Regions from separate parts of the Homo sapiens genome. Here region 2 is linked to region 1. Evidence: fine-mapped expression QTL. Tissue or cell type: pancreas. Region 1 holds a variant in brackets; the other region holds the start of a gene. All regions are shown on one strand. Distances are between the middles of the regions.

Evidence for each region. PIP is the estimated chance that this variant, and not a neighbour inherited with it, causes the effect.
Region 2: it holds the start of ACYP1, and the variant in region 1 is fine-mapped to the expression of ACYP1 in pancreas (GTEx, PIP above 0.99).

What each region holds. Positions count from the first base shown.
Region 1 is chr14:75,195,986-75,198,670 of GRCh38, reverse strand. No RefSeq gene overlaps it. Among named protein-coding and RNA genes, the nearest start is that of TMED10, 21 kb to the right of the region's middle. The variant G/A (reference allele first, on the strand shown) is at 1,492.
Region 2 is chr14:75,062,545-75,065,229 of GRCh38, reverse strand. It overlaps ACYP1 (acylphosphatase 1), which reads left to right and starts at 1,206. Exons shown (of 3, transcript NM_001107.5): 1 at 1,206-1,276; 2 at 1,669-1,760. The coding sequence starts at 1,677. RefSeq lists an enhancer at 866-1,035.

The DNA.
Region 1 (2,685 bases):
AGAATTTTAGAACTTCAGAGACTTTAGCATAAATAGTTTCATTCTAATTTAACCATGGGTTGTCGGGGGAGGGAGCCAGACACTAAATATAGCCAGTCTTGTATTTCTGGGGCACTCCTGGAAGCTTGAGAAGGGGGAAGGGAACTTGGTCGCCTACATTCTGGCAGGCTCTGTGCTATACAATTTACAGTCCTCGCAAAAGAGCTATGAAACAGATGTTGTTATTCTCACTTGGAGATTAGGGAACTGAGGTTCAAAGAGGTAAAGTAACTTGACCAAGGTCACACAGTTAGTCAGTGCTGAGGCCCCATGGAAACCGAGGTTGGCTTCACACCAAAGCTCATGCTCGGTCCATGGATGCATCTGTAGCTGCCCTGTGCTTCCTCTTGGTGTCTTTCCCCAGAATCTTCCTCCAACACCAGGAGTATCAGCATCCCTCTTTTCCGTGTTAGCCCATTGGAGGCCAGGAGGGTCGCTAGCCCAGATCCCGAAACCCTGTGACTCCTTGCTGGCCCATCACTCTGTTTCCTTCTCCTCACACCCACCCATGCCTTCTACCATGGCCAAGCCTCTTCCAGCCCTTTTCTCCTCTTCTCTCCCATTTTTCCTGCAAACCCAGGCCAGAGCACGAAGCAACCCTAAAATACTAAGAAATAGCCAAACATGTAGGTTTAAAGGTTGTCCATTAGCAGGGCGCAGTGGCTGACGCCTATAATTCCAGCATTTTGGGAGGCCGAGGCGGGCGGATCACCTGAGGTCAGGAATTCGAGACCAGTCTGGCCAACATGGTGAAACCCCGTCTCTACTAAAAATACAAAAATTAGCCAGACGTGGTGGTGTGTGCCTGTAGTCCTGACTACTTGGGAGGCTGAGGCAGGAGAATTGCTTGAGCCTGGGAGGCAGAGGTTGCAGTGAGCCAAGATCACGCCACTGCACTCCAGCCTGGGCGACAGGGCAAGACTCCGTCACCACATTAAAAAAAAAAAAAAAAAAAAAAAAAGGTCCATTTAGGTTGCCTGTTTTGATGTAGGAGTGAAGAAGGGAAGCCATCACTCCCCTGTGCCTTGATATGCTGATGACTGCTTTGCCTGCGTTCCTCTGATTTTGTGTGCTGACTCCTCAACACTGAGAAATTTCCCAACTCCCGCAGGCCTACAGAGATATCTCCTTCACAGGCTGTGCCCACAGGATAAGCATTTACCTAGGAAACAGACTTATCCCATAATAATCTCTTGCTGTTGCATATGGGTATATTAAAACTAACCCCCTCCTAGCACTTTGGGAGGCCAAGGTGGGAGGATTGCTTGAGTCCAGGAATTTGAGACCAGCCTGGGCAACACAGTGAGACCTCATTCCTATAAAATTTTTTTTTAATTAAAAAAACACTAACTCCTACCACCACCCACTCCCGCTAAACTAAAGGGTTATGTTTATACCCTTATGTGTATGTGTGTTATGTTCATGTGTGTTCCCCACTTACCCAACACTTCC[G/A]TTTTGAATGTGTTCTTGTTGACTAGATGATTGGCTGACCCTGTAGTATATAGGGACCCCTCAATTCATATCTGAAAGGTGGCACCACAGGGACTGTGGAATGTCCTTATCTCAGGTGCTCTGCCAGGCCCTCTAGGGATCTTAGTTAGTCCTCACAACAAACCTAGACAGCATTACTCCCATTTCACAGCTAAGGAAATTCAAGATCAGAAAGGATGTCACTTGCTCCAAGGTAAGACAGGGAGTAGAGAGCAGAAATGGGATTCCAGTCCGCGGTGCTCTGGTCCGCAAGACCCGCGGCATCTGAGACGCCTCATGTGCCTCATCTCTACCAGACTCGAGATGCCCCAAGGTGGAGACCAGGCTTGGGTTCCCCATGGGCCTTAGCACAGAGCCCTACATAGGGCAGTTGTATGGTAAATGTTTGCTCAGTAAATTGTCAGAGGAAGTTTACACTGATTACCAATTGTGTGAGAACCAGCACTGGGGAAAGAGGAAGTGTTTGCACAGTGATAAGGCCTATGTGCCTGATGGTACACCCCATGCCCTGGGCCAGTGGTGAGAGTGGGAGGTGGGCAGCAGAGGGGGGCAGTGCGAGACGCCTGCCCTAACAGGGCTAAGGGAAGAACTGTGGTGCCCAAGAGACCCTGGATATAGTGGAGGATAGGAGGGACATCCTGAGGGTTGACTGATTGCCAGCTCCCCGGCATCAAGACCTTCAGGTTCTTCCACTAGAAGGAGCAACAGAGACACAGGGGAGTGAGAGGGAGGCAGCCTCTCAATGGACACAGGGTCACCTGGGGGCTGTGGGGGAAGCCAGCCAGAGTGGCTGTGTGTGAGGAGAGGACTCTGAATGGGGATGCTGGGCCAGGCGGCATTTGGGTTTGGGAGACCCTGGGAACAGAGGTAGCATTTGAGAGAGCTTCTCAGGAAGGTGGAGGAGGAATGTGGCCTGATTCATCACCTCTGAGAAAAGGACATTTTCTCGGAAGGCCCAGACCAAGAATGCAACAGAAAGGCATAGTTTGAAGGGATCAGATAAAACTTTTTTTTTTTTTTGAGATGGCATCTCGCTCTGTCACCCAGGCTGGAGTGCAGTGGTGTGATCCCAGCTCACTGCAACCTCCACCTCCTGGGTTCAAGCGATTCTCCCACCTCAGCCTCCGCAGTAGCTGGCACCACAGGTGCACACCA
Region 2 (2,685 bases), 130 kb after region 1:
CAATCCACAGAGGATCAATAAACACCACAGTTTTCCTTCACACACATGAATCATAAGGGTAGCTGGATTCAAATGTTTACACATCAACTCTAATTTTAACCATCTTCATCCACATCCCCCTTGACAATTCCCTGTTCCCAAAATAAATTCGTGTAGTTTGGCCATTTGGCTTAGATTGACTGACTCAACTGTAATTCTGGAGCCATGAGTTATTTTGCTTGTGCTCTTGCTTTATTTGTGTAGTTAGCTGGTTATTTGTTCAAGCATTATTTGACATTTTCTTAGTAAAGGAGACCGGTGAGTAGCTTCCAGAAGCCCAGAAGCAGACATAACCTCCATTGGGACCTCCTGTGCACTTATGCCCCGTAATCCCCTATTCCAGATTGTTATGACCCAAACTTTAAGGAGAACTGAATGAAAAAGGACAGAAAGGTTAAATGTATCCTACTCAACATATTTATGATGTTTATTTTTTTATTTATTAATTTATTTATTTGAGTCAGAGTCTCCCTCTGTTGCCCAGGCTGGAGTGCAGTGGGGCAATCTCGGCTCACTGCAGCCTCCACCTCCCAGGTTCAAGCGATTCTCCTGCCTCAGCCTCCCGAGTAGCTGGGATTACAGGCGCCCGCCACCATGCCCGGCCAATTTTTGTATTTTTGGTAGAAACGGGGTTTCACCATGTTGGCCAGGCTGCTCTCGAACTCCTGACCTCAAGTGATTCGCCCGTGTCGGCCTCCCAAAGTGCTGAGATTACAAGCTATTTATGATGTTTAATGTGTGCTGTTTGTCTCTCACCTCCAGAATTAAGCTCCTCAGGACAGGGATCCTGTTTTGTTCACTGATGTTTGCCTGGTCACCTAGAACAGGTGCCTGGCACACAGTAGCTGTCAGTCAGTATTTAATTGAATGATTGAATGTATCCCCATGTACTTCTTCGTCTATGCCTTTCTCCTCATGAGAAAATGAGAAGAGGGTTGCGCTTGTTGACTGAGATGCGATGAGGGCTAGGTTTGTGGAGGCCCAGCCGAGTTCCTGGACAGATCCCCAACCCAAAGCTTTTGGGTTGCCGGACAACCGCGTCCTGAAATCCCACCTTCTGGGCGGGCCCGGGCCGAGGCGCCGTCTCTGATTGGTCAGCTGGAGGTGATGGGCATGAGCGACAGCGAAGGAGCAGCTACACACTAAACTTCCGGGCGCGGAGGTTTGCGCGCCTTGGTGAGCCGTTGGCGTGGTGGTCCCGGAGTGATCCTGGCAGCCGGTGGGGAAGACAAGGAGGGTGAGCCGCCAGGGGCCCCCAGGGTGTGCTTCTCAGGTCGATTAGCCCTAAAATGTTAGTAGCAGGGGATTCTGGGAGTTAGTAGCAGGGAATTCTGGTAGTGAGGGAGCGGGACCGGGCATGGATGTAAGGAGGTCATCGGTCCTCAGGTTATTTCCCCAGAAGAGGCTTCAGCGGGCAGCTGCGATCCGAAGCTCCCTCTCCCGGCGTCTGGTTCTTCCTTCACACACACCTTATCACATCCACTCACGTTTCCATTTCCAGGACCTTGAAGTCGGGGAGAGGTCGCAATGGTTAAGGATGGACAGGGGTGGGTGTGGCCCTTTCTGACTCAGGCTTGCGGGTCCTGGAATAATAGCCCTTCACTCTTCTGCTTTCCTGGTTTCTGACAGGTTTGAGCATGGCAGAAGGAAACACCCTGATATCAGTGGATTATGAAATTTTTGGGAAGGTGCAAGGGGTGTTTTTCCGTAAGCATACTCAGGTATGTGGCCTGCAGGCTTTGGGGTGGTAACCTAGGTTGTGGGCATAGGAACAAGGGACGTGTTCTTGACAAATGTGAACTAGAAGCCGCTGGCTATTTGGTAGCTGCATGGCAAAGAGGTAGTTTGTAGAGCAATGAGTATGAAAATGCTGTGCAATCGGTAAAACATGGTGTAAATGGAAGATCACCCTGCTGTTATTATTAGTCAGTGGTGCCTGAGCATCTAGATACACATATTAATGAGCTTCTCTCTTCCAAGGGAAATAGAGGGCTTCCCCAGTGCTCGCCGTTGTGGCATCATCAAACCAAGTCAGGTTTCTTATAGAAAGGCTAACATTGATTGAAGAGCTGGCATTTAGATGACCTGATGTCATGTATATAACATATATAAATGCTTCCTCTGCAGCTGCTGCACTTTCTTCAGACCTCTTTCTCCAAGCTTCCCTCAGTTCTCCACTTAATTTCTTTCTATTCTTTTTTGGTTTTGAAAGAACATTTACCTTTTCCAGCTGACGTTTTTCTTATTAAAAACTCTTTATCCATTCCAGAATAGGTGATGGGAACACTGAATGTGGAGCCTGGTATTCTTCCTAGAGCAATAAAGGATTATTTGAGGGGATGGACAAACTGTTGGCAGCCTCTACCTCTGCTTTAATGTGGCTAATCTTCCCTCAACAGGCACACACAAATGCAAGCTCAATTTACCCTCTGCCTTCTGTAGGTATTGGCTATTGCCTTCCCAGTGTGTCGCTAATCCCACAGATAATGAGTTAGGACTGCAAAACTTCTTTTTTTTTTTTTTTTTTTTTTGTATTTTTAGTAGAGACAGGGTTTCACCATCTTGGCCAGGCTGGTCTTGAACTCCTGGCCTCGTGATCCATCCGCCTCAGCCTCCCCAAGTGCTGGGATTACAGGTGTGAGCCAC